Regions from separate parts of the Homo sapiens genome. Here all the other regions are reported to be linked to region 1. Evidence: microRNA targets listed by miRTarBase, many of them from high-throughput screens and not tested one by one. Region 1 holds a microRNA gene; each other region holds the end of a gene's coding sequence. Distances are from middle to middle.

The links. Region 1 holds the annotated microRNA hsa-miR-940 (AAGGCAGGGCCCCCGCUCCCC, at 3,413-3,433, opposite strand). A microRNA usually pairs through its seed, bases 2 to 8, with sites in the 3' UTR of a target mRNA and lowers its output. Matches are read on the target gene's strand: a 7mer-m8 pairs with bases 2 to 8, a 7mer-A1 pairs with bases 2 to 7 and ends in A, and an 8mer does both.
Region 2: the mRNA of GRSF1 is a reported target of hsa-miR-940. The part of its 3' UTR that is shown has no 7-base or 8-base seed match.
Region 3: miRTarBase lists ARPP19 as a target of hsa-miR-940. Seed matches in the 3' UTR shown: 7mer-A1 at 2,881-2,887, 7mer-m8 at 3,367-3,373 and 7mer-m8 at 4,472-4,478.
Region 4: the mRNA of SENP5 is a reported target of hsa-miR-940. Seed matches in the 3' UTR shown: 7mer-m8 at 2,316-2,322, 7mer-m8 at 1,757-1,763, 7mer-m8 at 1,731-1,737 and 7mer-A1 at 1,016-1,022.
Region 5: the mRNA of ZFP69B is a reported target of hsa-miR-940. The part of its 3' UTR that is shown has no 7-base or 8-base seed match.
Region 6: the mRNA of PLLP is a reported target of hsa-miR-940. The part of its 3' UTR that is shown has no 7-base or 8-base seed match.

Annotation. Positions count from the first base shown.
Region 1 is chr16:2,270,129-2,275,238 of GRCh38, reverse strand. MIR940 (microRNA 940) reads right to left here and starts at 3,492; the gene lies at 3,399-3,492. It overlaps MIR3677HG (MIR3677 and MIR940 host gene), which reads right to left. Exons shown (of 3, transcript NR_132988.1): 2 at 3,348-3,563; 3 at 2,167-2,252. MIR3677 (microRNA 3677) reads right to left here and starts at 4,526; the gene lies at 4,467-4,526. MIR4717 (microRNA 4717) reads right to left here and starts at 619; the gene lies at 548-619.
Region 2 is chr4:70,819,737-70,824,736 of GRCh38, forward strand. It overlaps GRSF1 (G-rich RNA sequence binding factor 1), which reads right to left. Exons shown (of 10, transcript NM_002092.4): 9 at 4,558-4,632; 10 at 1-1,125. The coding sequence ends at 4,583. Among named protein-coding and RNA genes, the nearest start is that of GRSF1, 18 kb to the right of the region's middle.
Region 3 is chr15:52,547,757-52,552,866 of GRCh38, reverse strand. It overlaps ARPP19 (cAMP regulated phosphoprotein 19), which reads left to right. Exons shown (of 3, transcript NM_006628.6): 3 at 763-5,110. The coding sequence ends at 933. Among named protein-coding and RNA genes, the nearest start is that of ARPP19, 19 kb to the left of the region's middle.
Region 4 is chr3:196,930,447-196,935,446 of GRCh38, reverse strand. SENP5 (SUMO specific peptidase 5) reads right to left here. Exons shown (of 10, transcript NM_152699.5): 10 at 733-4,634. The coding sequence ends at 4,524. It overlaps NCBP2 (nuclear cap binding protein subunit 2), which reads left to right. Exons shown (of 4, transcript NM_007362.5): 4 at 1-41. Among named protein-coding and RNA genes, the nearest start is that of NCBP2-AS1, 6.9 kb to the left of the region's middle.
Region 5 is chr1:40,463,197-40,468,306 of GRCh38, forward strand. It overlaps ZFP69B (ZFP69 zinc finger protein B), which reads left to right. Exons shown (of 5, transcript NM_023070.3): 5 at 1-519. The coding sequence ends at 393. Among named protein-coding and RNA genes, the nearest start is that of ZFP69, 12 kb to the right of the region's middle.
Region 6 is chr16:57,252,755-57,257,864 of GRCh38, forward strand. It overlaps PLLP (plasmolipin), which reads right to left. Exons shown (of 4, transcript NM_015993.3): 4 at 3,343-4,275. The coding sequence ends at 4,159. ARL2BP (ARF like GTPase 2 binding protein) reads left to right here. Exons shown (of 6, transcript NM_012106.4): 6 at 1-881. Among named protein-coding and RNA genes, the nearest start is that of ARL2BP, 10 kb to the left of the region's middle.

The DNA.
Region 1 (5,110 bases):
CACTGTTTTGTGTTTTGTCTTTTGGAGACAGGATCTTGCTCTGCTGCCCAGCGTGGAGTGCAGTGGTGGTATCACAGCTCACTGCAGCCTCAAACACCTGGGCTCATGCAATCCTCCCACCCCAGCCTCCGGAGTGGCTGGGACTAAGGGCATGCGCCACCATGCATGGCTAAATTTTATTTTTAGTATAGACGAGGTCTCATGTTGGCCAGGCTGCTGCCAAACCCCTGACCTCAAGTGATCCACCTGCCTTGGCCTCCCAAAGTGCTGGGATCACAGGCGTGAGCCACCATGCCCGGCGAATGCACTATTATTTCTTATGGTTTTCTAAACCCGATTTGAACTTCTGCATTTTACATTCCCTTAGAATTCAGAGTTTTAGAAAAGACTTGTTTTCATCACTTTGGCTCATTTGGGACAATTTCAAGTCTGTGTTTTTATCAGTCTCTGGAAATTTATGAAAGCTGCAAATCGTCTCCAGTAGCTCTTTTATTCCCTTTAAACTTCTGCCATCTAGTTCCATGTTATAAAAAATATAACGTGTTTGGGCAGTGTTTAGGCCACAGCCACCCATGTGTAGCCACCCCTACACATGGGTGGCTGTGGCCTAAACACTGCCCACGAGAAAAGTTCTGAAGTGGGCCCTTCTGGCCCCACAGCCTGTCCGCAGGGGCTGTGGCCTCTAGGTCGGGCCTGGGGCTAGGAAGAGGGAAAGGTCAGTGCACGAGGCCACCCAGCTCCATGTCCATGCCCATGGCCCTTCTGCAGGGCATCCTCAGACTTGTTTTCAAGCCCATGTGTTAGAGATTTAGGAATGTGTCATTTTTCTCCTGTGACACCCTAAAAGAGGGTTGGGGAGAGCGTATAGGACTGAGGGCACAGCCCGCATGAGGCACACACGTGTGAGGCCAGCGTACACAGGACACGCACAGGAGATACCATCCTTCCCGGTAGCACGCTGCCAGCACCAGCAGGGGTCTTTAAGTAAGGACTGGCACAAGTAGAATGCCTTCTTAGGAAAATGATCCGCAGCTCAGGAGGCTGCTGCGTGGGGACCGGGAGGGGCAGGTGCATTCAGGGCGTCTGTGGCAGGGGCCCAGGGCTGCACCCAAGCCTGGAGCTTAGATGACCCCAGGAGCAGCAGGAAGGGCCCATCTGGCATCCCAGGGAAATCCTCAAGGCCTCTGGAAACTCAGTGCTGGAGCTGGGTCACCAGGGGTGCCCTAAGGAGCCTGGGACTGAAGCCTCAGGACCCTGCCCTGGCCGATTTTTGTCTGAGCTGTGGCAGTTCCCAGCCCACGGGAGGGCAGGGGAAAAGAGCCTTGGGCCCAGGGATAGGAGTGACCGGCCTATCCACGCTCCACCCTAGACCACGGAGGGGGGCCACACATTCTCTACGGACACTGTCCCCAAACAACTGTGGCATCTGACAGAGCCAACTCCTGCCCTGCTCCCAGTTCACCTTAGACCTGGGAAACGAGGTTTTGACTTCACTGCTCTGCATGGCCTGGTGCAGGGCTCCCGTGAGCAGACGGCCCATGGGCCACGAGCCAGGTATGTGGAAGAGCCTGTGCCTTCTGTCCTCCAGGCCGGCCCAGTCCAACGGCGTGGCTCAACTGAAACCACACCCAGAACTCGGAGAGGGGAAGACCTCGCGGTGGGGCGGGCCCAGGCCAAGCCCCTCCACTGCCATCACAGGTTTACAGCGGAGCAGAGGGGCAGGCCGGATACAGGCAGCCCAGGCCACAGGTCAGGGGACCCACACCAGGCCACAGGAACAGGCTTGCTGAGGGTATCAGAAAACCCCAGGTCACAGTGGTTTGAAAAAGAAGTTTATTTCTCAGCCATGTAGGCAGGAGGAGGCAGTCCAGCACTCGGTCACCTGAGGTCTCAGGGAGGCAGGCTCCATCTGCTGCCCCGTCATCCTGGTTCACGCCTCCCTCCTCATGGTCACCTCTGTGTTCAAGGAAGTGCTTGGCCGGGCATGGTGGCTCACGCCTGTAATCCCAGCACTTTGGGAGGCCGAGGCAGGCGGATCATGAAGTCGAAAAATCAAGACCATCCTGGCTAACACGGTGAAACCCCGTCTCTACTAAAAATACAAAAAAATTAGCCGGGTGTGGTGGCGGGCACCTGTAGTCCCAGCTACTCAGGAGGCTGAGGCAAGAGAATGGCGTGAACCGGGGAGGCGGAGCTTGCAGTGAGCCGAGATCACGCCATTGCACTCCATCTGGACTACAGTGAGACTCCATCTAAAAAAAAAAAAAAAAAGGAAGTGCTCAAGTTCAGGCCGGGGTAGGGTGTGTGCAGTGGCCTCCGTCAAGTGTGTGTCACCCCCAGGCAGCTCCCTGCTGCGCCTGGACCCAACTGTGCCCTTGGCTCACTCCATCTTGCTGGGTTTCCCATCTCTGTCTTACTGGCTGCTTTCAGAGACCAGGCCCAGAGTCCCCAGGACTCAGGTGACCTTGGCTACCCTGGAATCCTGGACTAAAGATCTGCAATAGAAATGTGTCCAGCAGGGAATGTAATGTGTCCAGCAGGGAACCATCCTGTTTGCTTTGCTTTTCTGAGTTCCTACAACCAACCGGCCAGGGCGCACTGTGGGGCACAGGGATGCAGGCCCTGGAGTATGGCCACTTCTGCCTGGGGGCGTCTGGGGGGTTTCCTGAGTGAGGTGGGGTCTCACCAGCTCCAGGAGACACCACTGCCATGCACAAGGTAGGTGTGGGGGTGGAGGATCACCTCCGTGAGGACCCAGACCCCACCCACTGTGGCTGTGGTGGAGACTGCAGGTCTGTCTCAAGGCCCCAGGCCTGACACCTGCAAGAACAGAACCTGGGGGTGACGGAGAGGGGATTCCACCAGGCCAGCCCGGGGCTTGAACCCCAGCCAGGGCAGCTGCTGTCTGCTGCCCCACCAGGTAACGCACCGACCCAGCTGCTGTTCAGCTCCCCCTCTGGGCCAGCACCATGCTCATGGCATAGGCCGGCTGGGCCCTCTGAGACCCCCACTCCCACACAGACTGGTCTGCATGGAGGCTGGTGCAGCCTGTGCCGTACAGACCCTGCCCGGCTGCACTACTGGCCAGAGCCCCCTGCAGACAGGCGGCTCGAGGGGAGCTCCACCATGCAGGAGATGGCCCAGCACTGCAGTCACTTAGGCTGCTCATCCCTCCCCGAACTGACATGTCCCTCCCTCCAGATGCCCCCCACCGCCGAACCCCAGCATGCTGGGCATGCTCTGGCCATCCCACACAGGGATCAGGGTGGGAGGGCTGGAGGCTGCCTGTCAGGGGCAAGGCCTCCTCCAGGAGGTAGGACGGGGTGGTGCAGGTGGGGTCCCCTCACCTGATGGGCCCTCGAGGCCAGGCTGTAGGCAGGCAGGAGGGGGCTGAAGCAGTGGGGTCAGGCCCGGGGAGCGGGGGCCCTGCCTTCCTTCCTCAACACACGGGGCTGCCCAGGCCCCGCTCCTGGGGCCGGGCCCACACCTCACAGACACTGGTGTTGGATGCTTCGGCTTGAAGGAGCTCCAAATGGACTAGCCGCAGCTGCCCCTGGGTCCACCTGGCCCAGGCAATACCACAGAATCACCAAGGCTCATCTAGCCATGGGCCCAAACCCAAGGCCCTAAGAGGCACCCCGGGTGCCTCAGTCACAGTCCCAGGCAGCTCAGGTCCCAGGCGGCTCACAGTCACCATCCTTGACTTCATGGTAGCAGAAATGGAGTGCTTTGAGCTTGTGATGAGCACAGGCTCCCAACCCTGGGAGAGTTCAGACATGCCCACTGGAGAGGCCCCAGGCCCTGATGATACCCACTCCTCAGACATGCAAACCTGGAGCCAGGGAGGCCCCAATGAACTGCATACTCTCCCAACAGACCAAGCTCACCCCACACCAGCGCAAGGCCCTTTCAGACCCAGCCTGGCCACCCCCATGGACCTGGCCAGCACCTCCCCCAGCCCCACCCTCTCCAGACAGGCACCAGGCTGTGGTGACCCGCCTCTCAGCAGCTCCTCCTCTGATGCCTCCCCACGGTCCAGTCGTTACCCCCTCGTCCACCTGACTGGGCTGCGCATGGCCTCAGTGCAGAGCCAGGTTTTAGTAGTGGGTAAAAGGGCTCCCTTGCTGTGCTTTACCAGAGAATGCAACACCCCCAAAGCTCCTTCATGACCCACTGTGACCTGCAGCACCACCAAGCCCATCCTCATCCCTGTGTCCCAGGCCACCAGCCTCTGAGGGCAGGCACTGCAGGAGCCACCGGGCCACAGAGGATGGAGGCAGGGAGGACATTCTGCCTTCATGAGGGCATGCTCTCAAAGACAGAGCCGCCCCAAACTGTCAGCAGGTGACCCTCCGCTCTGGGAAGGCAAGGGGAGGAGCTCAGGGCCGTGGCCAGAGCCCACGAGAAGCCCGTGCCCAGCTCAGCAGGTGACCCTCCGCTCTGGGAAGGTAAGGGGAGGAGCTCAGGGCCGTGGCCAGAGCCCACGAGAAGCCCATGCCCAGCACTGCAGGGCTCTGGCCACTGCCTAATGCCCTCCATGAAGCCCTGCCTGCCCTTCCAGCAAACCAGGGCCCCTGAGGCTCCAGAAACCCCAGCTCCACTGCCCTCAGCCTCCATGGCCTTAGCAGCCTGGCTCTGGGGCTGAGCTCCTGGAAGGGCAGGGTGGGGGTAGGCTCCTGAGTTTTATTTTCTCACATTTCTTCCAGACATGCTTCTGCTGATCCTCAAAATGGCAAAAGCCAGGATGCTCAATTCTCAAAGCTCAACAGCTGATGGCACATTTGATAACAAAAATCAGTAATATTTAGAAACAAATTTGATTAAATTCGTAAGTGCCTGAATAAATCATACTTGTAGATTTAATATAAAATGTGTGAAAGCTTATTCGCAGGCCAAATGACATTACTGCAGAGCATTAAAAACCAGCAGGGGGAGGGCTGTCGGCCCAGCTGGTGCTGCGTCACGCCCACCCATGTCATGTGGGGTCACCAGGCTGCCCCTGCCCACCAGGTGTCAGTGGGGCCCTGGGCATGGGCTCTAGGTTTGGGGCCTTTTAGCACCTCTGACCACTGGACTCCAATGCCACCTCAGAGAATTCCGCCTATGCCTG
Region 2 (5,000 bases), not on the chromosome of region 1:
AAAGAAAGCATACAGGATTTTGATTCTCCTACACAGGTGCACATAAAGTTAGTTTATTAATGACTATATTTTGAAGCCAGCCATTTTGTCCAATATTTAAATAACAAGCTGTTTAATATTAAAGCAGAAAGTACTGCCACATTGTGACAGAAGTACAGCTTTATCCATAAACCCTTCACACAATTATACATTAAATGCTATTTTTATTTAAGCAAGGCACCCCTACTTGTTCTAAAATATGGGATGTACTACTCCATTTAAAAAGCAAATGAGGAGACTGATTTTTTTCCTATCTAGAGCTGGTTTAAATTCAAGTGAAGCCATTAATTTTCTTACCAGTCTGGACTGTTCTGACATGTCACTTCACAGTTTTGAGACTAACAAACACCCTTAGGTCTACCCCAAACCAAAAAAAGCCAGGGAGGGACAGTTTAGACAACTTTTAAGTTAAGACTAGAATGCCCCCTTAAGTAGATAGGCACCACCGTTATACGCCTTTAGCACAAGGCTTAGAAAGGCAAAACATTTCTAAAGACATAAAACCGCCAAATTGTCATTTACACTAAGCTGTGGTATTTTTTGTTTTGATTTTTAAAAATTCCTATCTCTAAGTAATCAAATACAGCAAAATTTAAAACTATTCTGCCAAACCATACCAGTTCAAAGGTCTGAAACCGTTCTTTGCTTTGGTGAATGTTTGGTTAAAATAAATCACTGTTTCACTCCATGAGAAGTTTTACATCAGAGCACTCAATTCACAGGCAAAAAAAAAAAGTTACTTTTTAAATGAAACCGTTTAAAGAACACTGCTGAATAAAAATATGTGGTCTTTACAATGAGTAACATATCATCTATGAAAACAAACCATTTAATCATATAAAACAAAGACCATATTTTTAAATCAGATCCTGGACAGTTTAAACAAAAATTTTAATTTGTGGTTTATTTCATAATCCCAAACTGGATCTTTCATTTCTTCTTCTAAACAGTCCACTATGAAACTTTTCTTAGAAGCAATTAACCCAAAACACCAAAATCATTTCCCTAGCAGTTGCTGCTAATAAACTGGAACTGTATATCCCAAGTCCAAGAAAGATGTGCAAATGAAATGCTTCTTGCTTCACCCTAAAAATAAAACAAAAAATATTGTACATTTACTCAAGATGAAAAAGGATGGCACACATTCCCATACCATTTAAAATTGCAAATTCAAATTTTTCTCCTTTCTAATTTAGTGCAAGCTATCTGATAAACCGAGTTAAAGTGAGGAAAACTAGTCAGGCATTAGTGTTTACAGGCTGGTACAAAAAACTGAGTTTCAGAATATATTTTAAATAGATTTTAGCTATTATAAATATTTAACACCAAAGAATTGTGGGACTTCATATCCAAAAATAGCAACAGAAGAGGCCAGGCACGGTGGCTCACGCCTGTAATCCCAGCACTTTGGGAGGTTGAGGCGGGCAGATCAGCTGAGGTCAGGAGTTCGAGACCAACCCGGCCAACATAAAGAAACCCCGTCTCCACAAAAATAAAAAATTAGCCGGGTGTGGTGGCGCATGCCTGTAATCCCAGCTACTGGGGAGGCTGAGGCAGGAGAATCACTTGAACCCAGGAGGCAGAGGTTGCAGTGAGCTGAGACTGTGCCATTGCACTCCAACCTGGGCAACGAGAGAAACTCCGTCTCAAAAAATAAATAAATAAAAATAAAATACAAAACTTAGCCGGGCATGGTGGCATACGCCTGTAGCCCCAGCTACTTCATAGACTGAGGCAGGAGAATCGCTTGAACCCGGGGGGCGGAGGTTGCAGTAAGCGGAGATCACACCACTGCACTCCAGCCTGGGCGACAGAGAGAGACTCCGTCTCCCAAAAAAAAAAAAAAAGCAATAGAATAGGATATAGTAATAGAATGAATGTCCGTGTTTTTTTGTTCCTTTTTTTTTTTTTTTTTTGAGACAGAGTTTCGTTCTGTCATCCAGGCTGGTGGAGTGCAGTGGCACCATCTCAGTCACTGCAACCTCCGCCTCCCAGATTCATGTGATTCTCCTGCCTCAGCCTTCCCAGTAGCTGGAACTACAGACATGCACCACCACACCCAGCTAATTTTTGTATTTTTAGGAGAGACAGGGTTTCGCCATTTTGGCCAGGCTGGTCTCAAACTCCTGACCTCAGGTGATCTGCCTGCCTCAGCCTCCTGAAGTAATGGGATTACTGGAGTAACCCACCATGCCTGGCCCCATGTGTTTTCAAGAAATCATTACAGGTAAGTGTCTCAAAAGAATGAGCCATTACCTGTAGAAAAGTGACTGCAATACAACAGTAATACTTACAATACCTTATGGGAAAAAAAAAAGACACCATATATTTAATCGAGGCAAGGAACATCAAGATGTATTAAGCAAATCTCACGGGTAGGTTAACACTATAAAATTATGTACTTCCTAAGGCAAAAAAAAAATGCCATTTTAGGAAAAGGAAACAGTGGCACATTAACTGTGTTTATGGATGATACACTCTGGTTTCACATGGTATCCTTTTAAAAATACCTTAAAACAGAAAATGGCTGGGCGTGGTGGCTCACACCTGTAATCCCAGCACTTTGGGAGGCTGAGGCTAGCGGATCACTGGATGTCGGGAGTTTGAGACCAGCCTGGCCAACATGGTGAAACCCCGTCTCTACTAAATATACAAAAATTAGCTGGATGTGGTAGAGAATGCCTGTAATCCTAGCTACTTGGGAGGCTGAGGCAGAAGAATCACTTGAACCCGGGAGGCAGGGGTTGCAGTGAGCTGAGATTGTGCCACTGCACTTCACCCTGGGCAAAAAGAGTGAGATTTCATATCAAAAAAAAAAAAAAAAAAAAAACAAAAGTAACCTGAGAAAATGGAAAACGTGTTTAAATTTAAGTGGGGAAAAAAAGCTAATGCAAGTCACATATCCAGTCTATTACGATTTATAGCTACTAAAGGTGGCTATTTTTTGGCAAACAGCATGATGTTGGAAATTATGCATAAAAATTCTATATGGAGATAATGCTCAAAGCTACCATATAAATCATAAGGAATTATGGCTGGGAGCAGTGGCTCACTCCTGTAATCCCAGCACTTTGGGAAGCCAAGGCAGGTAAATCACTTGAGGCCAGGAGTTAGTTCAAGATGAGCCTGGCCAACATGGTGAAACCTCATCTCTACTAAAAATACAAAAAAATTAGCCAGGCATTGTGGCGGGCACCTGCAGTCCCAGCTACTCGGGAGACTGAGGCAGGAGAATCACTTGAACCCAGGAGGCGGAGTTTGCAGTGAGCCCAGACTGCATCACTGCAATCTAGTCTGCTCAACAAAGCAAGACTCTGTCTCAAAAAAAATAAAAAGTAGGCCGGACACAGTGGCTCACGCCTGTAATCCCAGCACTTTGGGAGGCCGAGGCAGGCGGATCACCTGAGGTCAGGAGTTCAAGACCAGCCATGACCAACATGGAGAAACCCCGTCTCTACTAAAAATACAAAAATTAGCTGGGCGTGGTGGTGCATGCCTGTAATCCCAGCTACTTGGGAGGCTGAGGCAGGAGAATCTCTTGAACCCGGGAGGTGGAAGTTGCAGTGAGTGGAGATCGAGCCATTGCACTCCAGCCTGGGCAACAAGAGTGAAACTCCATCTCACAAAAAATAAATAAATAAATAAAATAAAATTTAAAAAAAATGAAAAAATATCATAATTAATTCTATTTCCCAGCAGAATTTTCTTTTTTTTTTTTTGCCCCCCACATCTGAGAAGCCAGAGCGAGAATTTTCATTCCTTATATTGACACTTCAATTATCATTAGTTTGATCTTTATTAAAAAGGAATGGTGCCAGGCGGGGTGGCTCACTCTTGTAATTCCAACACTTTGGGAGGCAAAGGCAGCAGGATCACTTAAGGCCAGAAGTTCAAGGCCAGCCTGGGCAACATAGTGAGACCCCATCTCTACAAAAAATTAAAAAATTAGGTAGGCATGGTAGTACACACCTGTAGTCCCAGCTACTTGGGAGGCTGAAGTGAGAGAATCACCTGAGCCCAGAAGGTTGAAGCTGCAGTGAGCTATGATCGCACCACTGCTAGCCTGGGCAACAGAGCAAGACCTAGTCCCTAAAAAAATTTGAAAAATAAAAAGAGAATGGTTTCTACCATATTACAAATTAGTGAGTGAATGATTATTAGTTTATCAATAGCAAATAATTTCCACAGTTGTATCTCTCTCTTTTTTTTTTTTTTTTTTGAGTCTCGCTCTGTTGCCCAGGCTGGAGTGCAGTGGCACAATCTCAGCTCACTGCAACCGCTGCCTCCCGGGTTCAAGTGATTCTCCCGCTTCAGCCTCCTGAGTAGCTGGAATTACAGGCACCCACCATCATGCTCGGTTAATTTTTGTATTTTTAGTAGAGACAGGGTTTCACCATGTTGGCCAGGCTGGCTTGAACTCCTGACCTCAGGTGGTCCGCCCACCTTGGCCTCCCAAAGTACTGGGATTACAGGTGTGAGCCACTGCACCCAGCCCACAGTATTACCTCTTAAATTTACCTTATTATCTGGAGCCCCTAGAGTCTTATTTTCCTTTTGGACATGAATTCAGGAACAGTTCAATATACCTATGATCTGAGGATAATGAGAAAGATTAGTTTTAAAAAGTTGAAAAGGTAGAAAAATATTACAGCCATTTTTCTCACAGTTCAGACAGCAACTCAAACCCTTTGCCCTTTCCTTTCCCTAATTAAAAACAAAATTTAGGCCAGACACGGTGGCTCACGCCTATTGTAATCCCAGTACTTTGGGAAGCCGAAGTGGGAGGATCACCTGAGGTAAGGAGTTCAAGCCAGCCTGGCCAATGTAGCGAAACCCCATCTCTACTAAAAATACAAAAATTAGCCAGTGTGGTGGTGGGTGCCTATAGTCCCAGCTACTCGGGAGGCTGTGGCAGGACAATCACTTGAACCCAGGAGGCGGAGGTTGCAGTGAGCTGAGAT
Region 3 (5,110 bases), not on the chromosome of region 1:
GACCTCTGACCTCAAGTGATCCACCCAACTCGGCCTCCCAAAGTGCTGGGATTACAGGCATGAGCCACCATGCCCAGCCAAATTATGTGTTTTATTTATAAAATAATTTAAGCAAGTGTTTCACCTGGTTGTTCCATTAGTAAATGAAAGATTTTATTTCACTGAGTCTGGGACTTCCCAAATAGCTTAATATTATATTAGTCTTGATGGTTCTTTATTAGAACCAGAATGGTTCAAGAAAGCCTGAAGGCAGGTTCTTTTTTTTTTTTTTTTTTTTTTTTTTGTGAGACAGTCTCTGTTGCCCAGGCTGGAGTGCAGTGGGGCAATCTTGGCTCACTGCAGCCTCCACCTCCCAGGTTCACATGACTCTTAAGCCTCAACCTCTGGAGTAGCTGGAGTTACAGATGTGCACCACCACACCCAGCTAATGTTTGTTTTTTGTTTTTTTTGTTTTTTTTTAGTAGAGACAGGGTTTCGCCATATTGGCCAGGCTGGCCTGGAACTCCTGACCTTAAGTGTTTCGCCTGCCTTGGCCTCCCAAAGTGTTGGGATTTCAAGAGTGAGCCACTGTGCCCAGTCTGAAGGGGGGCTTCTCGGCTGTTGACTTATGCTGGAACTCAGTACAGAGACTATTTCATCTAATTAATATTCCTGTTTAAATTCTTTTAGACCAACCTTATACGGACAGTATGGGGTTGCATCGACATCTTAAATCAGTAATTGCTAAGCTCTAATCTGAATTTTTTTTGTTTTTACTTATAGCAAAAATATTTTGATTCTGGGGATTACAACATGGCTAAAGCAAAAATGAAGAACAAGCAACTTCCTACTGCAGCTCCGGATAAGACGGAGGTCACTGGTGACCACATTCCCACTCCGCAAGACCTTCCTCAACGGAAGCCGTCCCTTGTTGCTAGCAAGCTGGCTGGCTGATTAAGAGGCTGAACTGCATGAATCTGCTAAATCTCATTATTTCTCCTTAATATGTTACTTATCTACTTTTTATTTCCTTTCATTCACTAGTCATTTGAGACTGACAGCTTTGCAGGTAGCAGTAGTGTGTGCTGCTATTGTGGAATATACGTGTGTAGAGTTTTTGATTAGTTTAACAGTGCACTGGTGAAGAGGACATGTTAGAGCAACATAAGTAAACTACTTGAAAATAGTTGTATATATTACCTAACTTCTAGTGTAGTACTGGTTCTAACAAGTAACAAGCAAGTTTTAAAATTTTAATGTTTTGGCTTTCATTACTTCATCTTAATTATAGCTTTGTATGTTACTCTTATTTAATATAATCTCTATTGTATTGATTTCTTCTGTATTTACCTTTTGGATTTTGTAAAACAGAAGTTTAAGACCACAAGTTAGAAGAAAGGTCACATATTTCAAACACAACTAGATGGGGCTCTGAAAGATTTGTATCTCTGTGCTTGAACTTGAATGGCCTTAAACCTGTTTCAGCTTTAACAGTAGAATTTTACTTGGGCAATATTTGCCCATTCTGGTGTAACTTATGTGACTCTAGTGCTTAACAGCTGCCGTTGAAGCTAATATTCAGTTCTGTAGAGTTAGAATACCTTTTGTTGTTGAAGATGTGAATGAAGTATGCATGTGCATTAACTGTTGAATTCACTTTTGTGCCATTTTTGTAAATACAGTAGTTTTGCACAACCTCTCACAAATGTCTGTATTAATTTCACATACTTAAAAAGTAGATAATGTGCCAACCAGAAGCACAAGAGTTCCTACACAAAACTCTGTAAATCATTATAGCTTTTGTATAATAAGAGTAGTTTACAATCTCGGGCTTATAGAATACCAAACTGAAATCTTAGTTCAATCTGCCATAGACTTAAGCTTTTCATTTGTTACTAATATCCATGACATTCAGTGGCCTTGTGCAAATACGATATGTTGCTTAGGCATATCTTTTGTCCTATGCAGAACCTTTCATTTTGATTTTTATGAAAGTTGCAATTCATGTAATTTATATAAACTTTTTAAATGTAGAAACTTTTTACTTCCACACTCAGTTTTGGAGACCCTAGAATAAAAGGCTTCAATACTCTGCATTCCATGCCCTCTGCCACCTGCTTTTTTTTCCCCTTTGTTCTTTGACTCAAATGGTATTGAGCTGTTTGTTGTATATGGAAGCATAGGTGTCTATATCCTTACTCTTTTATATAACACAATAATGGCGTTTTCCTTCTAATTTCTCAGTTGTTAACTTCTTTCTCTTTTTTTTTTAGGATAGGGCCTTGCTCTGTCACCTGAGCTCTAGTGCAGTAGTGCAATCACAGCTCACTGCAACCTTACTCCTAGGCTCAAGTTAACTATTCTTGATCCTTTATTATTACTAATATTCTACAATTGTTTAAATAAAAGGAACTTTATAATGAAACGGTTCGGAATACTGGCTCAAGAACCTATGTCAAGATGAGCTGAATTTTGGTAAATTATTTTAGGAATTATGACAAGCTAATTGAATTAGGCTTGTGACAATTAGAGTAATTTACATGACAGGTAAAACTCCTATTAAAAATGTTTAGATGTTTGCTTCTGTAGATGTCACTTTAGTAAAATACCAATTTAGTTTTACTTGTGGCTTATCTAGTTAGAACTTAGCAGACTTTACTGGGACAAGTTTACTGCTCTTGTAGGAGCTCCTCTCACAAGTAGTTGTAATGCTGTAGCATGATACTCAGGATCAGTAGCTTGAGATGCTACTATTTTTCTCTTCATCTTTGACTTGCAGAGAGCCTCCCGTTTTTGGATCCAGGCATCTTTTCTGAATCCTGGTTCCATCAGTATACCTGCTCTCCTATGACCCCAAATCATAGTCAATGGTGCCTCAAACATAGCACCTTAAGTTAAAGGCTGCCTAGTGCTCTGAGGAAAGCTTGCTGATTATCTTCCTGATCTACTCACCCCAAAAGGCAGAAAAGCAACACAGTCACTGCTGTGGTCATTTGTAATGTAAAGATCAGTTATATATATATATTTGTAATGAGAGCAAGTATATACTCATTATAGAATCAATTTAAGAAGTTTAAAATAACCCAGAGTAGAATTTCTATATCTAGTCTTGGTTTTTTTCATGAATATTTGCAAGTAATTACCATTAAATTCACACATGAAAGATTAATCTGAAAGATCAGAGACCATGTTATTCCTGACCACGATAGAACTGCTCCTGTGGTTTGGGACAAGTAATAAAACAACTGCTTGAGTTTTGTTTGTAAAATACATAATTAATATTTGACCTACCTCAAAATGTATTGAGGATCTGTGAAATGCTAAGTGCCCAAAATAAAATATTGCTGATTGTCTTTTTATTAAAAGTAAATTTCCTCATTAAGCCAACCTGCCTTCTGTAAGTCACAGTGCTTAAATCTCAGGATTTTTCATTAGGAGAGACCTGTCGTTAAGGATTTGTAGGTATAATTGCTTAGCCTCCATTATTGGTGCTTGGGATAGAGAGGTTTTAGATTTTTGTTTTTTTTTTGTTCTGCCTCAAAGCTCAGTTTATTGAAGACATTTGTAAGCTATTGGATCATCACTTGAATCAAGATTTTGACTAGTGAGCTTAATTGTCCATTTCTTACAATTTCAAAGTTACAGTCTCAGAAATGGTTAATTTTAATAACTGTCCTATCATAAATTAATGTTGGAATAAATTGAAGTTGTTGATAAATACTTCATGAAAACTAAAGTCTGAAATAAATTACTTGTTTTATGTCCAATAGCTACTACATTTGATAGAACAGTTTTGAGGAACATTTCATTCTTGAACGCAGCATCTGACATGGTTCTCAGCAAGTTGGAATAGTAAGGATTATTGGCTTGTTTCGATGAGTGGAAGCGGCATGTTTGTAGCATACAAGTTATTCAATAATCTTGTGCTGATGACCTAAAAATATGTCTTAACTATTCATCAAGGAAAGCCTGGTGAAGCCTTTACTTGTTACTACTTCAACAGTTGGAATTAGTTGCTCTTTTTACTTGATGAAACAAAACTATACCTCTGAATATTTATGGATACTTTTTACTAAATCAGGCTTGTGTTCTTAATCCAAATTAGTAAAGTTTTATGGAAGCTGAAATGTAATACAGTAGTCTCCCCTTATCTGTAAGAGATACATTCCAAGACCCCTAGTGGATGCCTGAAACCTCAGATAGTACTGAACCCTTTATCAACTATGTTTTTTCAGTCTGACAACCAAGGCGGCTACTAAGTGACTAAGGGGCAGGTAGTATACAGTGTGGATAAGCAGGACAAAGGGGTGATTCACATCCCAGGCAGGACAGAGCAGGAGATCATGAGATTTCATCACTCAGGATGGCTTGTGATTTATTTTATTTTATTCTTTTTTTTTTTTGAGATGGAGTCTCACTCTTGCCCAGGCTGGAGTGCAGTGGTGCGATCTTGGCTCACTGCAACCTCTGCCTCCTGGGTTCAAGCAGTTCTCCTGCCTCAGCCTCCCAAGTAGCTGGGATTACAGGCGTCCGCCACCATGCCCAGCCAATTTTTGTACTTTTAGTAGAGATGGGGTTTCACCATGTTGGCCAGGCTGGTCTCGAACTCCTGACCTCAGGTGATCCACTCGCCTCGGCCTCCCAAAGTGCTGGGATTATAGGCATGTGCCACCATGCCCGGCCGGCTTATGATTTAAAACATGAATTGTTTATTTCTGGAATTTTCCACATAATATTTTTGGACCAAGGTTGCCTCAGGTAACAAACTACAGAAAGTGAAATTGCAGATAAAGGGGATTACTGCTCCTCTGCTCTAAAATTGGTGTTTGGGTGATCAGAAGCAGGTAGCCAATGGGAAGAGCACTTCTGAGTGATAACTAAAGCAGTTTGGTGGCCTTTTCACATTCTCCAATGTTCAAACATATTTTCCACTTTCCATTTTCTCTTTCACCTCATTTTGCCTCTCTATCCCCCATCCCTGCTTATTTCTTAAGCCCATTGATGGCACTCATTAAATTGTATTTAGGGCTAATGAGTCATTGTTCCTTAATATCGTTTTCAATATGCCACAATTTAGGACACATTTAAAATTTTCTAAAACAATATCCTAATCAATATTGACTAATTTGAG
Region 4 (5,000 bases), not on the chromosome of region 1:
TGTCTTCTGTAATAGGTTTCAATAAAGCTGGATGAACTTATCGTTGTTGCTGCCTGTTTCCTGGCCTATAAAGAGGGTTGTGTTCTGGAATTCCTGTACTCTGGATACACATGAATGAGTTCCAGGGGGATTCTATGAATAGTGTGGACAATTCGCGTGTCCATTTTGATTGACTGACAGTTGGAAATAACTATTGCTGCGTGTGAAGAGAGCGCACAGATTTTCTTGTGAAAGTGATCAAATAGGCACCAAGCAACCTCTACTGATGGAAGAATAGGTTAGTTTTCCAAAAAACATGCTCTGGATGATTGCAAGGGAAGGGAAATTGTGGGTGGATTAAGAACATCTTATGTTTCCTGGGCTAGAGAACACTAAATGTGAGTCTCTTTACTGCACCATTCTTTCCTATTTCTCATGGATAGCATCTGACCTGTTTCTCACTTTAATCGGAGAAAAGTGAAAATTCAAACGTACAGATGAAGGCATCACTATTAATACATGTTAGTGAAGTGTGAGAATTAAACATTCAGTTTCTCAGTCAAGCTAAGATGAAGATATAGAACATTTCCGTTGTAGAAAATTCGAGTGATGGTGCTGCTGCTCTGAGGGTGAGCTGGTTAGGGCCTGCACTGCTCACTGTTCTGAAATGACCTCTGTCGTGACTGGAATGTCACAAGAAAAAAATTACTCCTCGCCAAACAGTACATGTTACTCAAGACGAGAGAACACAAGTTTATAAAGGCATTTAGTTTATTTTTCAAAAAAATACTTTGCTAGAAGGGTTGAGTACTGTAATTTTACATGATCATAATCTCTAAATAAATTCTTTTTCTGACCAACAGGTACCAGTTAAGTGAACAGCTCGTCTAGGTCTGCTTTTGTAACACCCAAATACAATTAGCACTTCTCTGCTGGTATTCCCTGGGCCGTCTTAATTATCTAGAGGCCAGGAGGCAAAGCCTAGCACGTAACAAAGTATGTGCTTTGTAACTGCTGATTAATTCAGTTTCTTAACTAGGCAGAGCAGGTCATCAGTGTATCTAATTCACACTATTAATACACTGTCTTGCTGAAGAGTCTGACCTGCCCAGAACCCCGTTATGGCTAGCCCAGGGAAGCAGTAAACTGCAAAGCAGAGAAAAGGGGCAGCTAAGATGAGGCTAGTGCTGGCTGAGTCCCAGTTAGGTCTGTTACTGTTCTGTTCCAACTATAAATCCAGGATGACTGTTACTCAGATTCAGTGCTATGTAGAAAATAGAATGCACAGCCAAAAACATAATTTGGGGATGACTGGCAGCACCTTTTTTTCCCTTTCTTAAGAGGCTAACTGAAAGTTGATTAGGATTCTTGAGAGAACGTAACTAAAAGTTGAATCAAATCTATATTCACTGCTATAGATTTAATAAAAGGAAAGACCACTGTAAAGATGCAACTACAACCTGATGCGTCTGCTGAGGAGAGGACTGGGCAGCTTGTTGAAGGCTCGTCAAAAGTAGCGCTTAGTTATCACAAGGCCTGCACTCAACCTCAAAAGCGTAAGGTTTAGGCCAGGCACGGTAGCTCATGCCTGTAATCCCAGCACTTTGTGAGGCAGAGGCGGGTGGATCACCTGAGGTCAGGAGTTCCGAGACCAGCCTGACCAACATGGCAAAACCCTGTCTCTACTAAAAATACAAAAATTAGCTGGGAGTGGTGGCGCACACCTGTAGTCCCAGCTATTGGGGAAGCTGAGGCAGGAGAATCACTTGAACCTGGGAGGCAGGGGTTGCAGTGAGCCGAGATCACATCACTGCACTCCAGCCTGGGCAACAGAGCAAGACTCCGTCTCAAAAAAAAAAAGCATAAGGTCTGCCTACCTCATGGGCACCCAAACAGTTCAGTGCCAAACTAGTACCAGTAAAGCCATGCCTGCCTCTTTCACCAACAGTCCAGAGTATATTTCAAAAATATCTTTATTAACCAAGGAAGCAATTACTGCAAACATCAGGACAAAGGACATTCTAATCTAGGACTTGAGTTAAATAGAGGTTTACACCTAATCACAAGAAGAGAGGGAAAGCAATTACGTGTGCTGAAACCAAGTTTCATCAATGACAAATATTTTAAAATGACTTTTAAAATACTTAACATTGGCCAGGCACGGTGGCTCCCGCCTGTAATCCCAGCACTTTGGGAGGCCCAGGCGGGCAGATCACTTGAGGTCAGGAGTTCAAGACCAGCCTGGCCAACATGGTGAAATCCTGTCTCTACTAAAAGTACAAAAATCGGTGGGGCGTGGTGGCACACACCTGTAATCCCAGCTACTTGGGAGGCTGAGGCAGGAGAATCGCTTGAACCTGGGAGGTGGAGGTTGCAGTGAGGCAAGATTGCGCCATTGCACTCCAGCCTGAGGGACAGTGAGACTCTGACTCAAAAAAAAAAAAAAACAAAAAACCCAAACTCAACATTTAGTCTAAGCCACACTGGGCAGCACACCTCAAGGTGCCCTATGAAGCATGAGACTGGAAGTGGAAGAGTCACTGGATTTGGGCAGCTCTCTCTCGGCGTTGATTTTCTTACAGGAACAATTCTGTCTCTTCTGCATGCCAGGTTCTGTCACTGAGGAACTGAAACACTTCCTCACTCTGAAGTACAAGACATTTTGAACTGACAGCCCAGTGACTGGCTACTTTGGTATACCACACCCCCACAAAAAAAAAAAAAAAAAAAAAAAAAAAATCAGAGGCAAATTTCTGGCATGTTTTGAAAAATCTCATGTTTGCATAATTATGTTTGAAAAACTCATTATGAGATCTTCCTTACCCTAAACTGTCATTTTTTCCTAACGCTGACAGAACCCCACCTATAGCAGCATAAAGTGCCTCTACTCTCAGTCTTTTTAACGACTTGAAACACAGTAAGAAACACTGACCTGGTTTGACATTAAGGATTTTGGGTCTGGAGGACTCAGGAGAGGAAAGTGCTGGGGCTGCTTCCCAGTGTCACCACTGGTGTTGGGAACCCTGCATGTAAACATGGTCGGACTCAATCCTCAACTGCTGGCAGTCAGCCTTCTCAACCATACCTCAGGGCCAAGTGAAACTAAACATTTTAGCTTTTTCAACACTCCAAACCTACGCGGGCATAAACTCGAGAATCTTCTGCCATTTACTTTGTTTTTCTATTCAGACTTCTGAGTTTCTCATACATACATTGGTTGGTTTTCCTCCCAATTCAGAAAGGGTAACTGGGTAGGTTTCACATGTATCTTTCCAACATGTCACGAAAGGCTGGATTAAAGATGTGAGACGCGTGATATTCATCCTAATGCAGCTAAGTGTATGGACAAGGGCCACTTGGCCTTTCTTCAGAAGATGAGGTTCAACAGAAGGAGAAGAACAGCTGTGCTAGTGTCAGCACTGGCCATGCAGAAGCCAGACGTACCCTGCATGTTACTGAGGTCACTAATGGGACAGGAGAAAGAACCTGACACGGTTGCTGCGCTCCCATGGGACTAAGTTGTCTCTATTACCTTCCCTCTTCTCTCCAGCCACCTGCAAAACATCTCAAGTCAGTCAGCCTTCAGTTTTGAATGTTTACGTTTCAGATACCCTTGAAATAGAAATGCATTTGGTAAACCTTAACTTCTTCCAATTGGGAGGCAACACAGGGAAATGACAACTTAAAAATTACTCTGAGAACAGCTGCATTCTCATTTGTTTGACCACTAGTTTGATGGATGTTAAGATTTTTTTAACAGGTCGAAAACAGAAAAATTCAGGGAATTCAATATCCCAGCAAAAGCCTTTATGAGATGTATGCCACGTATTATAATTCCTAAAACCACGATTGAAATCTGTCATTGTTACTGGCCTCCAAGGTTGCTTTTTCTCACACCTTACTCCTCCCAAAGCAGCCACTGTGCTTACAAGTGTGCCTCCAGAAACAGAAGACACCAGTCAGTTTACGACCACTTCCATCTCACCCTTCAAAAGGAATGGACTGCACTCTCTAAGACTCACTTGGAGAGGGAAGTTGGTGAAAGTTGCCGCTGGTAAAGTAAAACAGGACTGGATTTGTCAAAACCACCCCCAGCTACCCTTAATGCCCCAGGGAACACTTACTATTCTCAGAGTTATGTTGTATCAAAAACATCTTGCATTTTTAGGTTCTGGGAGTAAATTTGAAACCTGTATTCAGTTCACGTCTAACTAAGTTTCAAAAGCTGCACCAAATCTACTAAGCTTTTTTTTTTAATACTCTTCACTGCATGCTCTGTCTATATGCATGCGTTTGAATAATAAATATTAAATATGGGGGACGCACAGAACCATAAAATTAAAAATGAAACCAAACTGAACATTAAACAATAGTACATGGTAGCTGGAGAAATGAATAAGGGCAAAAAATAAATTTGAGGTAACAATAGTGGCCCAACACCACTGATCTGAAATATCTGTAAAAATTCAACTAAGTGTTTGGAGATTCAAGTAACAAACCATCTGCTCCAACTTGGTCAGACTTCCCAGAGTCCCTGCTGAGTTTCAGTCCATGAGCCGGCACTCACATAGCTCCTTGTAAATCCTCTTCCGCACTCGGGGCATGTCTTCTTGTGAAAACTGGAAAGGCTGCTCTAAGGCGAGGCACTTGCAGTACTGCAAAAAAAAAGGTCCCAGAAACACTTCAGTGGCACTTGGAGTTGTGGACCAGCCCATTCTGTTTTACTAAATGCAGACCTAATAGTGTCTAAGGCAGAAGACCCCAACCTTTTTGGCACCAGGGACTGGTTACGTGTAAGGCAATTTTTCCACAGACTTGGGGGAGAGGGGGTTGGTTTCAGGATGAATTATCAGGCATTAGTTAGATTCTCATAAGGGGTGAGCAACCTAGATCCCTCGCATCTGCAGTTCACAACAGGGTTCACACTCCTAAGAGAACCTAATGTGGACAGTATCTGTCCGTGGCCCAGGGGTTTGGGACCCCGATCTAAGGCAGCATTTTCATGTCTGTTTAAACTACTG
Region 5 (5,110 bases), not on the chromosome of region 1:
CACCTTAGGCAACATGAGATTATTCATACTGGTGTGAAACCCTATATTTGTAATGTATGTAGTAAAACCTTCAGCCATAGTACATACCTAACTCAACACCAGAGAACTCATACTGGAGAAAGACCATATAAATGTAAGGAATGTGGGAAAGCCTTTAGCCAGAGAATACATCTTTCTATCCATCAGAGAGTCCATACTGGAGTAAAACCTTATGAATGCAGTCATTGTGGGAAAGCCTTTAGGCATGATTCATCCTTTGCTAAACATCAGAGAATTCATACTGGAGAAAAACCTTATGATTGTAATGAGTGTGGAAAAGCCTTCAGCTGTAGTTCATCCCTTATTAGACACTGCAAAACACATTTAAGAAATACCTTCAGCAATGTTGTGTGAAATATACTAAACATCAAAGAATCTATGTTGGAGCACAAGATTCTAAATCAGTGGTTCCCTGATCCCTCAAAAATCCATTTGTTTTTGGATTTCCAAAAACGAACATTAAAAAAAAATGGTTTGGCACAATGTTCCCAACTCTTAATTTTGCCATATTAAAAACACAACACCTATTATCAGCATTGTTTCAGAAAAGAAAGGACATTTTAATATTTTTAAATGTAGGAACAGTTCCCCCCTCCATTTTTTTTTTTTTTTGTTTTTTGAGATGGAGTCGCTCTGTCACCTGAGCTGGAGTGCAGTGGCGTGATCTCAGCTCACAGCAACCTCCACCTCCCAGGCTCAAGCAATTCTCCTGCCTTAGCCTCCTGAGTAACTGGGATTACAGGTGCCTGCCACCACACCCAGCTAATTTTTGTATTTTTAGTAGAGACAGGGTTTCACCATGGTGGCCAGGCTGGTCTCGAACCATTCAGGTGATCCGCCCATCTCGGCCTCCCAAAGTGCTGGGATTACAGGTGTGAGCCACCGTGCCTGCCCCTCCCCCACCCCCGACCCAGACCCTTTTTTAAAAAACAGTTTCACTCTTGCCCAGGCTGGAGTGCAGTGATGTCATAGTTCACTGCAGCCTCAAACTCCTGGGCTCAAGCAGTCTTCCTGCCTCAGCTTCCCAAGTAGCTGGGCCTACAGATGTGCACCACCATGTCTGGCTAATTTATTATTATTATTATTATTATTATTATTATTATCATTATTATTATTGTAGAGACAGTCTCACTATGTTGCTGGACTGGTCTCAAACTCCTGGCTCCAAGCAGTTCTCCCACCTCAGTCTCCCAGTATGCTGCGATTACAGACATGAGCCACCGTGTCTGGCCAGGAACAGCCTGTTATATTACGTCAGCTTTATGACAGACTCCCACATTTATCTTTACTTTTCCCAGTTCACTATGTGCCAGTGAAATTTCATGGCGTGTTAGTGATCTGTGGATTAACTTTTGAGAAACACTCTTTTAAGTATCCCTTTAATAAATCAGAATAAAATATAGTACAGCCTTTTACTCTAGCCCTTTATATGGCTAGAAGAGGTAGAAATTAAAATGTTGCTTCTCATTTCTAGAAGAAAAAATGTTAAAGGGAGTTTTCTAGCATTGATAGATAACTTACTGTACACGAGATGCTTATTTATATTTTATGGTTTTATATAGAGCAAGAATTGGCAAACTTTCTGTAAAGGGCCAGATAGTAAATACGTTAGGTGTTGTGGGCCATGTGGTCCCTGTCACACCTATTCAACTTCCCCATTTTAGTACAAAACAGCCAGAGACAATATATAAACTACAGTATCTGAACCTTGGCACTACCAATATTTTGGACCGGATAATACTTTGCTATAGGAAGCTGCCCAGTGCATCCTGGGATGTTTAGGGGAATCCTTGGCTTCTACCCACAAGATGCCAGCATTCAATGCTGATAGCTGCCCCTCCCCCAGTTGTGACAGTCAAAAATGTCTCCAGACATGGCCAGGTGTACCTAGAGGCCAAAATTGTCCCTGGTTGAGACCCACTGATGAATGTGTGCAATAGTGGTTCCCATAAACTGCATTTAAAAAACAGCTGTTAGGTTTCGTTTGGCTCAAGGGCTGTCATTTTTCACTCCTCCCCCCATAGAGTATGTAAAATGATTAGAAATGACAACAGACTATCATTTAGTATCAGATTAGTGTGTGTATATGCCATAAATTATTTCCTTAGCAATTCCTTTAGTATTTTTGTTGCAATAATTCTTTAAACGCTACATTTGTAATGCTGTCTTGGAGCCTAGGAATTATTTTTGGAGATATTTATGCAGACTTCCCTCTATAATGATCGGTTTTTTATTATGGTTAATCCATAAATATTTTGAGATGTATCTCTAAAAAACGAGCACTCTTTGAAAACATAACCACAATGCCATTATTATACCTACAAAAATTAACCACAATTCCTTAAAACATAATGATGCCTTTTTGAAGAGAGATATATTGAGACTTCATTCTGGGGAGAAACCTTTCAGATAACTTTATTTACCTTTTCCTTTGCCAAGCATACAACATTAGATTTGAAATATGCTTTGTATCAAGTGGAAGTGTCTCTTAAGATAGCCCCTAGAACAACACATCAAGAGGCCCACCAAAGAGGACCAGAGAAAGGTGACTGAAGGAGCCATACTCAGGCAGGGAAATACGGAGAGAAAGCAGAGGAATTGGCTCCTAATGCTTCACTGTACTTAATGAAATAGATACTCCATCCTTACAGACATAATTGGAAGTAAGTCAAGTTCAACTTCTTTGTTTTATATGGAGATAGAACAGTTTCAATCACGTGAGTATTATAAGTGTGAATTATCTAAAGTAAAGCTATAAATCCAGAATATATACCAGTATCTCTAGAATTTTTCATATTACTACATTTACTTAAAAAAAAAGCTGGCCTCTAACTCTTAAGTCCTGTATGACTGATGGGCAGAAAAAGAGTGAGGTATACACTGTTTCTTAAAATTGTTCTACCATGTTTCTATGGTCTTAGATTTCCCAAGAATTTGAATTTCTCCAATTGCTTATTTCCCTGAAAGACATGACTATGACTTTTCTCTGTAGTTCCTGCCTCAGTGATCTCATACAGTCTTTGGCTTAAAATACCGTCTCTGTTTAACAGCTGCCAGATTCACATCTCCAGCCCAGACCTCTCCCGAACTCCAGCCTTGTTCTAACCTTTGGGCCGTTTCACTAGCTGTTGCAGATGCCCTATACCCTTACCTTCTCATCTTTGCTCAATTGTTGCCTTCTTACTGAAGCCTATCCTGTCCATACTATTTAATACTGCAGCTGTCTACCTTCCAGATCGAGAAATCCCATACCCCTTTCACCTGCTCTATGTTTTTCATATCACCTATCACCCTAGATACTTCACATATTTGTGTTTATTGTTTACTGTTGTTTCCCCTGGCTATAATGTAAGCTCCATGTGGGCAGGGGCCTTTGTTTTTTTCACTGATATATCACAAGTGCCTAAAACAGTGCCTGACACGCAGAAGGGACTCAGTAAATATGTATTGAATGGTTTTGATTTGAACTGAATTGAACTATGTATCCATGATGCAAGTAAAGAAATGTAATCCATATACTTTCCTACCTACATTTTATATGTGAGGAAATATTTTTTGTTTCCTTTTTCTTTTCTGTGCAAGTGGACCAATATTTGAGAATCGTATACCTTTGAGAATCATAGCTGATATACTTTAAGATAAAAGGGTATTTCTGTGTTAATTTGGTTTGGTTGTTTTTGTTTGTTTGTTGAGACAAAGTCTCACTATGTTGCTCAGGCTGGAGTGCAGCGTCATGATCATGGCTCACTGCGGCCTCAACTTTCTGGGCTCAAGCGATCCTCCCACCTCAACCCCCTGAGTAGCTGAGACTACAGGCACATACCACCACACCTGGCTAATTTTTGTATTTTTTGTAGGACGGGGTTTTGCCATGTTTCCCAGGCTGGTCTCAAACTCCTGAGCTCAGGCAATCACCTGCCTCAGCCTCCAAAAGTGCTGGAATTACAAGCATGAGCCACTGTGCCCAGCCTAATTTGTTTAAAATGCATTTAAATGTGGCTGATTAACAACATGAGTTTATCTTTATTTCATGAACCTGAGTGCATAAGCAAACTGGAGGGTATAAAAGACAATAGAGGAGAATATAGAAGCAGACATGAGATGTCAAGTTTTTGGTGGTGAGAAAATAGAAGAGTGGTGACTGACTTAGCAGAGCCTGCAGAAAAGTATACTGGCACAAGGATGTTCCTGGGAAGACAGAGGCCTTGGAGACAGTGGGCATTATGGAAGAAAGAGGGCTGAAAATGGGGATTCATTGAAATTCTAATGTCAGATCCTTAGACCCCCTCACCTACCCATACAGCTGGCTGTTACGCACACATTCCTCCCTCATGCCTTTCTTCATCCCATTACCCTTTCCTCATCCCAAAGGAGACTAGAGGTTTATTCTCTGGTGAAGGACCGGTCTCCCAATGTGCTGGGATTACAGACATGAGCCACCATGTCCGGCCAGGAGCAGCCCTGTATATTATATCAGCTTTATGACAAATTCCCAAATTTGTCCTTACTTTTCTCACTTCACTATGTGCCAGTAAAAATTTCATGTCATGTTAGTGATTTGTGGATTGACTTTGGTGTCCTTGATTCCAGAGTTGTTCTAGAATCAGGGACACCAGACAGTAGAGACTGGGGTAAAAATATGGCTGAAATGGGGACTAATGTAAGGCTGCATATTGAACTGTGGGGCCCTCAGCACTCTTTTCTAATGAAAACCAAGTTTTCATCCCTTCAACCATCTTCCGTCCAACCCCAGCAGGAGATTGGAGGAATCCTCTGGGGAAACTAGTTGGCAGGCTGGGCGTGGTGGCTCATGCCTGTAATCCTAGCACTTTGGGAGGCCAAAGCTGGTAGATCTCCTGAGCTCAGAAGTTCAAGACCAGCGTGAGCAACATGGTAAAATCCCATCTCTACCAAAAATACGAAAATTTAGCCAGGCATGGTGGCATGCACCTGTGGTCCCAGCTACTCAGGAGGCCGAGGGGGGAGGATCGCTTGAGCCTGGAAGGCAGAGGTTGCAGTGAACCAAGATTGCTCTACTGCACTCCAACCTAGGTGACAGAGTGAGACTCCA
Region 6 (5,110 bases), 55 Mb from region 1:
GATTTTGGAGTCTCCTGTGATCACATCTTGTCTCGGCTGTAGGAATCAACAGAAGGAGACGTCCTCTACATAAAAGCTCCATGTGAAAAGCTACTCCTAGTCTTAACATTTGCAGTCCTTGTGTCACTGTCTTCTGGTCCTGATGTAGTCCCACTGTTTCTAGAAGTCTCTTTTAAGCATTATTTTTGAAAAAAAAAATATTTTTATAGATGAATACTCAGGCTAACCTAGTGGATGTGATCTTGGAACTTCCATGATTATCCACTTAAAGATCAAAGTATTATATGCTGTGTGCTTTTTAGGTGTTTGTTAGTACTGTGAAGGCAAAAATGCTTTCTACATTGACATTCATTCCTATTTTACTGGGCACCTATGAATGTATGCTGTGTGCTAGAAATAGACTAAAACATATTCCTATAGCATGTTAGTGTGTTTGCATGTTTGCTGAAAATCCTTTGTGTATAAACCAGTTTGTAAGGTTCTCTGGGTTAGGTAGGGACTCTGCAGTTTCTTCCTGTCAAAATCTCTCCTACCAAGATGGTGTTCCACTGTCCAGCCCAGCATGAGTAGCAGGTAGAGCACAGCTTTACTGGCTGTTTGTATGCTTTGGTTTAGTGCAATGTGTGGTAGATTACTTATCAGAAAACATATATGTCATCTCTAGAACGAAGAAAAAGCATAGTAGTTCAATTCCCAGTGTGTCCCTTTGATTTTTTTTTTTTAATAGTAAAAATAAGAATCTGTACTGACTTTTCACTTGGCCATTCTGGTTTTAAAGGACAAGCTACAAGCTCTGTGTTTCTGTACTGATGTGTCACTTATTAAATACTTTTGTACCATGAGTAAAACTTCAGGTGTTTCGCAAGAACCACCATTCTCAATGAGTTGTATTCTTTCTTTAATGTAGCCACTGCCATAAGGTTATTAATTATTGCTTTGGTCTTTTTTTTTTTTTTTTAAATGCCACCTCTCCTGGGCTTGCTTTCCCTTGCTTTGTCTATAAATGGGAGGTCCACCACAGCCCAGGCATGCTGGGAGCACTTGCTAAGACCTGTGGACCAGCCTGCCTACTTGAGAAAAGGCCAGTGGACAAGTCCAGAGATTAAATGATGAAAAAACGATGATAAAGGCAAATTGGTTTTTCACCCTTTTTTTTTTCTTTTTTTTTTGGGAATGGAGTTTTGCTTTTGTTGCCCAGGCTGGAGTGCAATGGCACGATCTCGGCACACTGCAACCTCCACCTCCCGAGTTCCAGTGATTCTGCTGCCTCAGCCTCCCAAGCAGCCGGGATTATAGGTGTCCACAAACACGCCCAGCTAATTTTTGTATTTTTAGTAGAGACAGGGTTTCACCATGTTGGTCAGGCTGGTCTTGAACTCCTGACTTCAGGTGATCACCCACCTCCCAAAGTGCTGGGATCACAGGTGTGAGCCACCATGCCTGGCTGGTTTTTTCACCCTTTCTGCTCAGCAAAAAGGAGGCAAGTCTGTTGTCACTTAATATTATAAGTAGACATTCTGATTTCTTTTAAAATAAACTAGCAGCCTGTCTCTCCATCCTCAGACACTTAGACTGTGATGTCAGGTGCCACCTTTGATGGGGCTCCCACCTGCCCTGGGGTGAGGAAGCCCCAGTCCTCTTGCTTAGGACTCCTCCCCAGTGGGAAGCAGTAGTCACACAAACTGCTGAGCCTTAGCATTGACTGAATGCCTTTAATGTCCCCCCTGAAACAGGCTTTTGATTCATGTTGGAAACATAAGAGGGGTGAGCTCTCTAACTTGCCTGGGATTTTGTTTTACATTTAAGTGTATTGCCCTTCCTTAAAACCAAACTCTTATAACTTACTCCTGGAAGGACTAATTTATTATTCAAACTCCGAGACTTTAGAGTAAAAAGTGATGCTATTAATATTTATACCAGGGCCAAGTGTGGTGGTTCATGCCGATAATCTCAGCGCTTTGGGAGGCTGAGATGGGAGGATCACTTGAAGCTGGGAGTTTAAGACCAGCCTAAGCAATATAGCGAGACCCAATGTCTACAAAAAATTTAAAAATCAGCCGGGCACAGTGGCTCACGCTGGTAATCCCAGCACTTTGGGAGGCCGAGACGGGCGGATCACGAGGTCAGGAGATCGAGACCATCCTGGCTAACACGGTGAAACCCCGTCTCTACTAAAAATACAAAACATTAGCCAGGCATGGTGGCACGCACCTGTAGTCCGTTACTCGGGAGGCTGAGGCAGGAGAATCGCTTGAATCTGGGAGGCAGAGGTTGCAGTGAGCCGAGATCACGCCACTGCAGTCCAGCCTGGGTGACAAAGTGAGACTCCATCTCAAAAAAAAAAAAAAACAAAAATTAGCTGGGCATGGTGGCCTGCACTTGTAGTCCAAGCTACTGAGGAAGCTGAGGTGGGAGGATTGCTTGAGCCTGGGCAGTCAAGGCTGCAGTGAGCTGTAGTTGTGGCACTGTACTCCAACCTGGGCAAGAGAGCAAGACCCTGTCTCTTAAAAAAAAAAAAAATCGGCCAGGTGTGGTGGCTCACACCTGTAATCCCAGCACTTTGGGAGGCTAAGGCAGGCGGATCATGAAGTCAGGAGATCAAGACCATCCTGGCTAACATGGTGAAACCCCATCTCTACTAAAAATACAAAAAATCAGCTGGGCGTGGTGGCGCTCACCTGTAGTCTCAGCTACTCAGGAGGCTGAGGCAGGAGAATTGCTTGAACCCAGAAGGCGGAGATTGCAGTGAGCCAAGATTGCGCCATTGCACTCCAGCCTGGGCACTAGAGCAAGACTCGGTCTCCAAAAAATAAAAATAAAAAATAACAAAAGGGTACAGAGGGTACCTAGAAATGCTTTTACCTTATTGTTCAGAGAACGTTGTTCTGTGGTGTTGGAAAAATAAGCTCAGGAGTACTCAGCTGCTTTCCTCTGCTGTCTCTACCAGCTCTGAGCAGGCAGCATGGCCAGCCACCTTGATTATATGACCTCCAAGCTTCACAGACTTTCAAGGTAGATGATATTGTTGAAATCTTTGATTCAGTAAGCTCACCTAACCTGCCCAAAGCAAGGGTGACTAAGTTATTGTCAAACTGAGTCACTTGTGAGAATAAAAGGCCGTGCTATTCTATTTATGCCAGCACAAACAGCATAAACCAGGACTGTTCCAGACCCAGCAAGCAGGAAGTATAGGCAGCCTTCCTCCGGTCAAAGAGTTCGCAGGTGGTGCTGAACGACTCCAGAACGTGAACTGCCCTACAGCAGGCATCTTCTACAGTCAAGCTGAGGTCTCCTGGAGGTTACAAGCACCTGTAAAAGTGATTTGCCAACATCTTGTCCAAATAATTTCTCTCATCTTTATTTTTATTAAAAAAAATAAAACAGTCACCACCAACCACATGACAACTCGCCAGGCAAGGCCTTGCTTCCCTCCCTCCTTTGCGTCCCATGTGCCTAGTCAGCAAGGTCGGGGAGGCACCGATGTTAGCTTCGCCCAAAGGGAGTATTACAGAGAGAGGCTTGGGAAAGGGAAGGAAACCTGGACAGGCTTTTCAGCACTGAGAAATCACTTAAAACTGATTTGCTTTCAGTAACTGGTATGTCTGAAATGCAGGGAGGGAAGACCATGCTGTCAGCAATCAACCCACTTTTTACAGGTTGGCTCCAGGGAGAGGTTGGTTGAAACGGTGTTTAAAGGAAGGAGAGTGGTTTCACCAGCTTGCTCAGCTCTCCTGGAACAAAGACTAAGGTGCTACGTGTTGCTTGTTAGGCTTATACTACGGCGGGTCTGGGGCTGCAGGTCTGGAGTCCTTGTTAGTGCATTTAGTGCTGGTGAGAAGGGTGGGCCCCAGTCTTGGACGCTGAAGTCCTCTAAAGACAAGGCAGAGACACAGCCTCAGATCCCCCGTCATCTTCCACTGAATAAGGGGGATGGAGAAGAGGTCTCAGCAGTTGGCCTCCTGCAAGCCGAGATGCCTGCCAGCCTGGGCCTGCTTCCTTAGCGCTGTGAGAGCTTATGTCTGACGGGCAGAGAGGAGCAAATGCAGTCCCTGTTGGGCTGACTCCACGCAGGGCTCCCCAGCTTCAGGCTTGCAGGGTGACCCTGCTCTGTGACCCAGCGGCGGCTTCAGCCCCAGAGGGGGCCGTGGCACAGGTGGTTTAGGCATAGCCGCCAGCCATCTGACTGGTGGCCGCATTGCTGCCTACTCCTCGCCAGGCCTGGTAGCTGAAGAAGGCACTCACTCCATAGGCGATCATCACCAAACACGCAAAGAACTGAAAGAGAGGTGAGAAGGGCTTAAGGACCGAGAGGGTGACAGTGACACAAGCTCCAACCAGATCTCAGGCCAGGCAGGAGGGGTTGTGGCAGCCGCACCATCTCACACTTAGCCAGATGCATTTCACAGCTGTTTATCATGGGGCTGATGAGCACCAGGGTCCTGGGATACCAACATTACCTTCTAACCATGGGAAACAGCTAAGAACCACAGGCAGGGCCTGTCAGATTGTGATAAGGGCAATGAAGGAGAAGATAAGAGTGACAGAGGGGACACCTAGCAAGGATTTAGTTCTAAAAAGACAACATTCAAAGGACACCCTAGGAATCTCCTAGAACCAGTTCAAGCCTCTATACTAACACCTGCAGCCACATTCAGAAGCTCCCCGTCTCTGTCCCCATCACTGAATTTGCTGATTTCAAAACTGCCCTCATCAGGAAGAGTAAGGAACCAAATGCGTGCCCATTGAGGCCCTGCCCTCCCCTGGGCTTGGCCGTGGCTCCAGGCCTGGCGTCCAACTTCTCTGAGCAGGAGCCTCCTGTCTGTCAAAAGGAACTGGTAGTCCCTTCCTCTCCCTCACTGTGGGTGTCGCAGGATCCTGGGAGGAGATGGTGTGCAGGGCCTGGTGGTGTGAAGGGTGACAGGCGTGGAGGGGACTACTGCCACTTCACTGGCCACCTGACGTGGGCCCAGAGTTTGGGTTTCATGGGAGAGCCTATGAATCTCCCAGAATGGTTTAAACCAAAAGGTTTTTGCACGTGCACTTGTCAGTGGGAGAGCATGTTTTTCACATTCTCCAAGGGGGCACGTGACCCTAAGGCAGTGTGGCACAG